2 linked regions of the Homo sapiens genome follow. The protein of the gene in region 1 purifies or fractionates together with the protein of each later gene. This does not show direct contact. Each region holds a gene or a part of one and is shown on either strand. Other genes may lie near its edges.

The links.
Region 2: the proteins of PCDHGC4 (region 1) and SLC27A6 purify together in Homo sapiens (co-immunoprecipitation; 2 studies listed by BioGRID and IntAct, with this or other methods). This does not show direct contact.

What each region holds. Positions count from the first base shown.
Region 1 is NC_000005.10:141,480,284-141,488,045, reverse strand, and holds the start of PCDHGC4 (protocadherin gamma-C4 isoform 1 precursor), read right to left. Parts: upstream 3,017-7,762; 5' UTR 2,873-3,016; coding exon 431-2,872; coding exon of another isoform or gene 257-430; intron 1-256. UniProt on the Homo sapiens protein: Potential calcium-dependent cell-adhesion protein. May be involved in the establishment and maintenance of specific neuronal connections in the brain.
Region 2 is NC_000005.10:129,031,412-129,034,362, reverse strand, and holds the end of SLC27A6 (long-chain fatty acid transport protein 6), read right to left. Parts: intron 1,258-2,951; coding exon 1,081-1,257; 3' UTR 728-1,080; downstream 1-727. UniProt on the Homo sapiens protein: Mediates the import of long-chain fatty acids (LCFA) into the cell by facilitating their transport at the plasma membrane.

The sequences.
Region 1 (7,762 bases):
AATCCCTTGGGAAATGGTAACCTAGAGTTAAGGTACTTCAGAATCTGATCCCCTCTTTCAGGAAGAGTAGAGAAAACAGCCACCTTTGTCCAAGTGACTGCCTGGTGCACTGTACCCTGTGCACTGTAGCCTCCTGTGCTCCCACATTCCATCATCATGCTTCCACAACAGCCTGGCTCTTGATCACCAATTACTTTCATTTCTTACTCAGATATAGGCATGACCCGCCCCCAATGCTAAACTGTGACAACTCTGGTTAATTCACGAAACAGTTACAAAGCACAGCGTCTACCACATAGTTACCTCTTACAAAAATGGTGACATCACTATGGGCACTTACTGAGAGGCCAGTACTCTCTAGGACATGGCCTAGCCATATGCCTGGATCAGAATAACCCTCAAGCATTTGTTGAGCCTGCAAAGGTCTCACCTCTAGCCCATAGAGAAGATCAGAGGGTGGGCAGCTTGGGCGAACAGGCTCCCCTGCCATAGGTGCACTGGGTGACTTCACCATCATGAAGCTATCACTCCGAGTGGGTGCAGAAGCCAAGGGTGTACAGCCATGAGAGTGGCCTCCCACATCAACAAACTTGATAGGGTCATCTGACCCTAGCTGGATTCGGAGGATCCCATTGGAAGGGGGAAGCCCCTCCCTCCTTCGAGATCTGGTGAGACAGGCACAGGTGCCAGCAGGAAAGCATGTGACTCCACAGGCTGCCCCACGAAGACACTTAGAGAGTAGTGCCACGAATGAGCCAAAGGAGACAAAGCAAATTGCCACTAGGGACACAGCCAAGTAGAGGGTTAGACGAGATTCTCCTTCCCTTGGAGCTGAAGATTCTCGAAGATCTGGGACAACTGGATGAGTGTCTTCCTCTAAGGACACTAAGAGAGTAACAGAGGTAGAGAGTGGTGGACTACCACTATCCTTTACCACAATGACCAGCTTCTGTGGTGGGAGGTCAGCTGGGATAGGAACAGCCGTCCGCACCTCCCCAGCATATCGAGAGACTGCAAACAGGCTGGGATCTGGGGCCTCCAGGAGCTGATAGGAAACCCAAGCATTGTAACCTGAATCCAAGTCCACAGCAGTCACCTTTGTGATTAGGTGGCCAGCACCAACTGATGGAGGCAGTGCTTGGGGACATAAGGAACCAGGCCGGGCCCGAGGACGGAGCACAGCTGGAGCATTGTCATTGAGGTCCAGCACAAATAGACGAACTGTTACAGTGCTGCTAAGGGGTGGGTTGCCCCGATCCCGGGCCTGCACCTCAAACTGCAGTGTCTGGGTTTGCTCATAGTCAAAGGATCGAGTAGCATGAACAGCTCCTGTCTGGGGGTTCAGAGAGATGAAAGAGGAAGCTGATACATCTCGATTCCTGGGCTCCAGGAGTGAGTAGGAGATAAGCGCATTCAAGCCAGAGTCTGGGTCAGAGGCTGCAAGGGAGCAAAGCAGGTCCCCTGGGCGATTGTTCTCAGGAACAAACACCTCATGTGACCTCTGAAAGAAAGAGGGTGGATTATCATTCACATCTGAAATATTGAGGAAAATAGTTCTGTGGGTACTGAGAGGAGGGTTCCCAGCATCAGAAGCAGTGACCATGATGTCATAGCTAGATTTGGCCTCTCGATCCAAGGGTCCAGCAGTCACCAGGGAGAACTGGTTCCTGAAGGCAGACTTGAGGGCAAATGGCAAGTGGTCAGGAATGCGGAGGCTCACATCTCCGTTTGACCCTGAGTCTGGATCCTGCACACTGATAAGTGCCACCACAGTGCCAGGTTCTGCACTCTCGGGGAGGGTTCCAAGCTCTGAGGTCACTGTGATGTAAGGGGCATTGTCATTTACGTCCAGCAGATCCACTCGAAGGCTGCAATGTTGCTCCATGGCTGGAGAACCCCCATCGCGAGCCCGCACATCAAATTCATAGTAATTCTCACTCTCAAAGTCTAGGGGCCCCAAAAGAGTAAGCTTTCCAGTAGTGGGGTGCAGGCTAAAGAGGTTTCTTACACGATCAGGGGTATGACCACTGAAATAAAAGGTGACGTTACCACTGGGACCCAGGTCCGGGTCTGAGGCATTGAGCTGGATGAGCACCATGCCCGCTGGTGCGCTCTCCAACACACTAATCCTGTAGCTGGATTGCTGGAAGGCTGGGGCGTTGTCGTTTACGTCCAGCACGGATACCCGGAGCTCTGCGGTGCCAGATCTCGGCGGGTTCCCTCCATCGACAGCAGTCAGCACCAGGCGGTAGTCCGATTGCTTCTCTCGATCCAAAGGCTTCTCCAGGAGCAGCTCTGGGACCAGGCTGCCGTCGCTGCGCTTCTTCACATCCAGTGCAAAGTGTTCATTGGAGCTCAGCCTATAGCTGCTAATCGAATTGCTCCCCACATCTGCATCCTGAGCCTTTTCCAACGGGAAACGCTGTCCTGGAGGAGCTGCCTCCCCAATTTCCAAGTCCAGCTGCTGCCGCGGAAAACGGGGGGCGTGATCATTCACATCTACGATCTCTACCTCTGCTCGGTACATTTCCAAAGGACCTTCGGTGACAAACTCCAGGGGCACGATGCAGCTGGCACTGAGCCCACACAGTGCCTCTCGGTCGATTGGGTTCTTGATGAGCAGGGCTCCGCTGTCCAAATCCACACGGAAGTGTCTTTGGTTCACCTCTCCAGCGACCTGCAGCCTGCGAGCTGACAGACTGTCCGTATCCAGCAGGAAATCTTGAGCGACATTCCCTACAAAAGTCCCTTCCTGTGACTCCTCTGGGACCGGGTAGCGGATCTGCCCACAAACGTAACCCAGGTGGTAAAAGAGGAACAAAAGGGTAGCCCACCGCCAGATTTCTGTCCAGCTTCTCACCTTGCGGAGCATTGCTGCCGCCCGCTAATTCTCTACTTGCTCCTGAGACGCGGATGAAGCCGACCCGCCCCAAACAGCCACAGCAGCTGGAGACACCTATCTCCCTTTCCCCGCGCCAGCTCTGGCGCGGTTCGGCCGGCGCCGCAAGGGTTACGCGCCGTTTTTGCTGGTGGCGGGGTAGATTTGTCTGCCTTTCACCACCCGATTGGCAGACAGCGGCTCCCGGGCTCAGCCAATAGGCTGAGCAGAGAACGTCCCAACAGCAGCAGGGTTAATGCGTCGCAGCATTGGAGGGGAAAAAGCCCACCCTATCCTCCACGCTCCCCCACCCCCCAAAAAACCCAGCCTATCTTTTCGCCTTCCTCCCGCTCAACGGCATGTTTTTCCACGGGTTGTTATCTCTGTGGGGAGGCAGACAACATATATATATATATACATTTTTTTTCCTAACACACCGACTGACCCCGCCCCTTTTCGGCGGGGAAAACAGCCACAGCCTGAGCCCTAGCAACCTGCGGCCCACTGAGAGGGAGAGTAGCCATTGGAGAGTGGTCACTTTGTTCAAGCCAGTGTTGTCATCAACCAGTATTCTAAATGAGTAGCTTCCGTCTCAGTCTGATTGTATTGGAGCAACTGCTAATTAGAACCACTGCCATATACTCAAAACTCTGCCCTTCTGCAGAATATTCAGAAACGGATCCATCTCTTTGCAGAAAAGGCTTACACATTAACGTAGCCAATTAAATTTATGCAGTACATGTTCTCATTGTAACAGGAGACACAGCGGAAACCAAACCTTTCTTATTCAGACATTTGCTAGTGATACACTAGATACACTAAATTACCATTCATTGATTTCAAGGACAGTATGGAAGCGGGGTGGAGGAAGCCAGGAGAGGGAGATGTTTCAAAACAGTAAAGAATCAGTGTGTCTGGGAGGTGCTAAGGACCAGATCTCTTTACCTGGCAGAATGCTAATGTTCATAGATTTAATAGCTTCCTTGAATGATTGAGATCAGCTACCAACAGCATTGTGCCTACAAATTCCCTTTATCTGACACCAAGGTATTCTTGATCTTTTGTTAATTACCAACGAAGACCATTTCAAAAGAGCAAGCTTTTCACTTAGCCCCAGGGGACCTCTTGGAGCTGGAGACTTGATCTCACCCCACCCCCACCCTCATCCAGACCTCCCAGCAACCTAGCTACTCCCTTGCACAAGCACAGAAACACAACACAATTCACACCGTAGGTACCTACGACCTGCAATCTGAGTGGGAAACACACCAGAGCTCAGAGAAATAGAAAAATCCATCCTGATCTGGACATGAAATTTCTTAATTCAACCAAGTCCTTACCTAGGTTACACTGGCTGCCAAAAAAAGCAGCAACAACTGGAGTTCTTATCCTTCCCCAATATTTTTCCAAGCCTCGATCCTCAGGAATATCCTTTTGACTATGGTGGGAACCAATATTCTGGTGTCAAAAAGAGGAATCTGGCTTTCTGTGTTCTTTTACACACACACACACACACACAAACACACACCCCTCTATACCTTCTCCCATGGGAATGATGGAGGTGTAAACCAGCCTGACCTATTAGGTGTTTATGCCAGAATTCACTGTCTCTGTGAATGGCACTGTCAACCACCCAGCTTCCTTAGTCAGGATCTAGGGGGATCAGCCTTGACTCATCCCTGTCCCTCACTTCCTATATCATGTCAATCAACAAGTCCTGATGATTTTATTGTAGTCAGCTCCCTCCATCTGTACTGCCACTGTGCTGGTTCAAGCATTTATCAATCTTCTCTTCAAATATTGCAATAGCTTTCAAACTATTGCAAAGAGATAAGATCTCTTTGCCTCCAGTCCCAATGTCCCCAGTCCCTTCACTTATGACTGACAGAATAATATTTCTAAAACAAAAAAACCTCATGATATATGCATATCAGTTCAAATTTCTGCAGTGACTGTCATCTATATGGAATAAAATAAAAACTCCTTGGCTTGGCCCAAAGGTAACTCAGGATCTAACTCCTGCCTACTTGCTTCACCTCATCTCCTACAAAGACTGTCTGTTTTACACGCACACTTTTTTTTTGAGATGGAGTCTCTCTCTGTTGCCCATGCTGGAGTGCAGTGGCCTGACACCAGCTCATTGCAACCTCTGCCTCCCGGGTTCAAGCAATTCTCCTGCCTCGACCTCTCAAGTAGCTGCTCAAGTAGCTGGAATTACAGGCACCCACAACCACACCTGGCTAATTTTTTGTATTTTTAATAGAGATGAGGTTTCACCATGTTGGCCAGGCTGGTTTCAAACTCCTGACCTCAAGTGATCTGCCCACCTTGGCCTCCCAAAGTGCTAGGATTACAGGCATGAGCCACCGTACCCGGCCACACACACAGTTTAAGGTTCAGTGATAATGAAATACCATAATCCCTCTGCATGGAATTTCTTGCAATGGCCCCTCCCTGCCCTGTCCTTTCCCCTTTACTGTCTGACAAGCTACTACTCAACCTTTAGATCATAGCTCAAGCATCACCACCTCTATCATTTCTTCCTTTCTCCAGGCTCATTTAGGTGTTTTTTCCCGTTTGGTCCCACTGCATCTTATGCTATGCAGATCTCCATTATCTTTTTTTTTTTTTTTTTTTGCATGTCTGTCTCATACTGTACTCTGGGTACCAGAATGATAACTTTTAATTGTTTACAGTGTCTGGCACATAGGGATGCTAATAAATGGTGAATATCAGTATTATCATTTTTAGTTCAACAAATAGTTATTGAGTACTTGCTCCATACAGGGACTTTATATGCATTACTTTTCACTCTCACAACAAGTTTGCAAAGTAGATATTCTCTTTATTTTATAGATGAGGAAACTGGAGTTTAAAGAGATTAAAAGACTTACCTAAGCTAAACAACTAATATGTACAGTACTATACTTATATTGGCAATTTCACACCAAAACAAGTACCTGGTCTGTTTTACTAGAACTGGAGCATCGTAAAGCCTTAATCTTACATATCTTTGACTTGACCTTTTTATGCCAGCCATATGATTCTCCCATCTCTAGATATTTTTTTTTTTTTTTTGAGATGGAGTGAGTTTTGTTCTTGTTGCCCAGGCTGGAATGCAACAGCATGATCTTGGCTCACTGCAACCTCTGCTTCCTGAGATAAAGCGATTCTCCTGCTTCAACCTCCCAAGTAGCTGTGACTACAGGCACCTGCCACCACATCTGGCTGATTTTTTTTTTTTTTTTTTTTTTGAGATGGAGTTTCGCTCTTTCACCCAGGCTGGAGTGCAGTGGCGCGATCTCGGCTCACTGCAACCTCCACCATCAAGCGATTCTCCTGCCTCAGCCACCACGCCTGGTGAATTTTTGTATTTTTAGTAGAGACGGGGTTTCACCATGTTGGCCAGGCTGGTCTTGGACTCCTGACCTCGTGATCCGCCCGCCTCCGCCTCCCAAAGTGCTGGGATTACAGGCGTGAGCCACCAGGCCCGGCCTGATTTTTGTATTATTAGTAGAGATGAAGTTTCACCATGTTGGCCAGGCCGGTCTTGAACTCCTGGCCTCAGGTGATCCGCTGGCCTCAGCCTCCCTAAGTACTGGGATTACAGGCGTGAGCCACTGAGCCCAGCCCCATCTCTAGATTTTTACTGAGACATAATTCACATACCATGCAAATCACATATTTAAAGTGTATAATCCAATGGTTTTCAGTGTATTTACATGTACTAAACTGATACAATCATCATCACAATCTAATTATACAAGAATTTTGTCACATCCCTCCAAAAAGAACCCAATATCTATTGAACAGCTGTAGATGTTTAAATAATAGTTGTCCAGGGGCTAGTGCTTTAGGAAGGTTTTTCCCTTAGATGACTGAAATACCATTTTATGTCTTCCTACAGTGATCTTTTAGAGCTATGCTATGTAATACTTTAAGGCTGGGAGACCTTACCATGTTTTTTAAAAAAATTGGGCCTGGCCCAATAAAGCTGGATTCTGGTTCTGCAAATACCAGAATAACACTTTACTTCACAAATATGCTAAATGATGGATTGGTAGGTTCCAGAGTACTGCTTTTCTTTTTTCTTTCTTTCTTTTTGTTTTTGAGGTGGAGTCTCGCTCTGTCGCCCAGGCTGGAGTGCAGTGGTGTGATCTGGGCTCACTGAAACTTCCACATCCTGGGTTCACTGATTCTCCCTCACTGATGCTTCCGCCTCAGCCTCTAGAGTAGCTGGGACTACAGGTATGCGCCACCATGCCCAGCTAATGTTTGCATTTTTAGTAGAGACGGGGTTTCACCATATTGGCCAGGCTGGTCTCAAACTCCTGATCTTATGATCCACCCACCTCAGCCTCCCAAAGCTGTGGTTTTCAAATTTGTCTGCACATTAGGATCAAGTGGGGACCTTCAAAAAATGATGCCTATGTCCCACCCCCAGAGACTGTGCTTTCATTTGTCGGGGTGTGGCCTGGGTTTCAGAATTTTTAAAAGGTCTCTAGGTGATTTTAATGTGCAACCAAGTTTGAAAACATTGTTCTAGGGAAAATGCCAGTTGCTTTCCAGGCTGACCAGAAGAGCGGCAGTTATTTCTTGCTGGCTTTCATGCTTTCTTAGCCTTTTCATATGTGCTTCTACTTTGTCATTTTTGGTTGTTCTCATATGTGTATTTCTAAGGTGTGTTTGAGATTTTAGGTGAGTGAGGAACTAATAAAAATAATTATAGTAATAGCTGATAATTTTTTTTTTTGAGACAGGGTCTCACTCTATTGCCATGGTTGAAGTGTAGTGGTGCAATCACAGCTGACTGTAGCTTCAACCTCCCAGGCTCAAGCAATTCTCCCACTTCAGCCTCCCAAGTAGCTGGTACCACAGGTGCAT
Region 2 (2,951 bases), about 12 Mb from region 1:
GCACAAGGCAAGGATGCCCTCTCTCACCACTCCTATTCAACATAGTATTGGAAGTTTTGGCCAGGGCAATCAGGCAACAGAAAGGAATAAAGGGTATTCAGATAGGAAAAGAGGAAGTCAAATTGTCTCTGTTTGCAGATGACATGATTGTATATTTAGAAAACCCCACTGTCTTAGCCCAAAATCTTCTTAAGCTGATAAGCAACTTCAGCAGTCTCAGGACAAAAAATCAATGTGCAAAAATCACAAGCATTCCTATACACCAATAACAAACAGAGAGCCAAATCAGCAGTGAACTTTCATTCACAATTGGTACAAATAGAATAAAATACCTAAGAATACAACTTACAAGGGATTTGAAGGACCTCTTCAAGGAGAACTACAAACCACTGCGCAAGGAAAAAAATAGGACACAAATAAATGGAAAAACATTCCATGCTCATGGATAGAAAGAATCAATATCATGAAAATGTCCATATTGCCCATAGTAATTTATAGATTCAATGCTATCCCCATCAAGCTACCAATGACTTTCTTCACAGAATTGGAAAAATCTACTTTAAACTTCATATGGAACCAAAAAAGAGCCCGCATAACCAAGACAATCCTAAGCAAAAAGAACAAAGCTGGAGGTTTCATGCTACCTGACTTCAAACTATACTGAAAACACATTTTTAATGAAAATTATGTTATTGGGTTATAAGACAGGATACATAAAAATAAAATATTTCAGTAAAATTTAATCTTTTATTCAAAATTAGAAATTTTACTTATTAGAAAGTACATTTTTAGTGATTGTCCAAACCGCTAGCCACTATTTATTATTTAAAATCTTTAGTATTAAGGAAAATACTTAGTTATGCACTGAATCTCCAAATAGATAAAAAGAATAATCAACTACTGTTTATATCAATTAAAAGAAATTAAAATTCTTATGCAATTAAAAAATTATCTCTCATATTAAGGAAATATAGTACATGCATAATTAATGTTAGCTCCCTTTCCCCATTTCATAAAGAATCATATACCCCCCTCTCACTCTTCCTAAGAAAGCATATGAAAGTTCTAGATATAAAAATCTTAAAGTTTTATTTCCCCTAACATTATTTGATCATAAAGTTCCCTGGTCAGTAGAACATAAGACTTTTTCAAGTTATCCATGAAGTAAAGTGGTTCAGAAATTTTCAGTGGATTAAATCCATCTTCCACCAACTGATGCTTCAATAGTTTGAATGTTCCTGTTGCTTCCATTTTTTCCTGTAAAGCAATTACCAGGATGAGTAGAATCATTTAATAACTATAATATATACATATATAGTTAATACTATAGACTGTAATATTAAATTATGACACTTTATATCTAGTGATCTCTGTATTTTCTAATAATTTAACACTAGAAATAAAAAATGTATTTTAGAATATTAAAATCTTTAGTTTGATTTACCTGTAAACTTTACTTAAATATAAACTCATTCAATATATAAGAATTATGAACATAATAAACTGATTATAATTATGTCTAAAATACATAGGTTATCTCTTCAATTCAATGCCAATATAACATTATGTATAGAGAATGCCATAAGATGCTAAGGAGATAAAAGCCACAAAAGACAGCAATTTCTACTACAGGTACACACAAATCTATCATAAAAAGCAGAATACTATAAGAGCCAGACGGGGTGCAGAATGTTCTAAAACATGGCTTAAATATACCCAGAGGGGTTACTTGAATGGTCTAAAACTTGAGGTACCTCAGTGAATTTCCAAGGTCCTCACAGGATATCTTGTTTTCAAGAGAAACTCAGTGACATCTGTTAGTCACCAGTCACAAACTACTAGCTCAAGGTTCACAGTTTCAATAGTAATTTGTAATACATTCAATGATGTCATTATCTTTGCAAAATTGGGTTTTTGGTAGTTGCTGGGATAAAAAGCAAGTACAGCCAAAAATCATCATGGAACATGAAATCAGGCTCTCCCTGTCCAGTCCAATCTAATTCCAAGGTCTGAAGAACTGTGGCCCAACTTACATCTCCTTAGTGACTGATTGTGGTTATTTGAAAATGAAATGAAAGCATTTACTTATTTATATGGATTATTTTTCAGGTGGCTACTCATTTGTTAGACCTAAATACTTACCAATCTGTTTTTCCTTAACTAGTGAATAAACAAATGTTTAGGTATTTGTTTTGACCCAAGAGTGCTATGAGACATTAAAGATGCCATGAGTCTAGAAAGTTTAAGAATCTCTGTTTCAAGGTGTTTAAAGGAGATAAGAGTGTATCCCTTTGTGGGAATTTCAGGCATGGATAAACAGTCTGTTTAAGTGAGATGACATGTAGAGACCCTACAACATTCTATGAGTAGCTTGGCCATTTTTATTTATCCTTTTGGACTATTTGAGTCAACTTCACTTTGAACCCCCTTCCCTGATCTCCCTTCCCTCCTCCATCTCCCCTGATCCAACACTGTCATCACAGCCAGATATGGCTGTGCAAGCAAACATATCCTTTTACTCTTTTCTTAAAAATTAGCAGCTCACTGTATTTATACAATTTAGTGTTCTGCCATTTTTAAGCTTAATATTATACAAAGTATATTTTCCTGGGTCCTGTAATTTTCTTCAAAATTGAACTTAGAAAATTGTTTTATAAGGTCTCATTTAATTATCATATTTTAATTAACTTTGCCCTTATTCATGAACTTTTAGAGAATATCAAAATTTTTAACACTAGAAATAAAAAATGTGTTTTAGAATATTAAAATCTTTATACATCTTTGATTACTTCCTAAGATGCATTTTGACTAAGTCAAAATATATGCAAACTGTTAAGAGTCTGATCATATATTACCAAATTGTTTTCTAGAGAGGTTATAACAATTTATGGTTCCATGAGCAGAATGAAAGGACCAAGTTCGTTTTATCCCAGCCACACTGAATATTATAT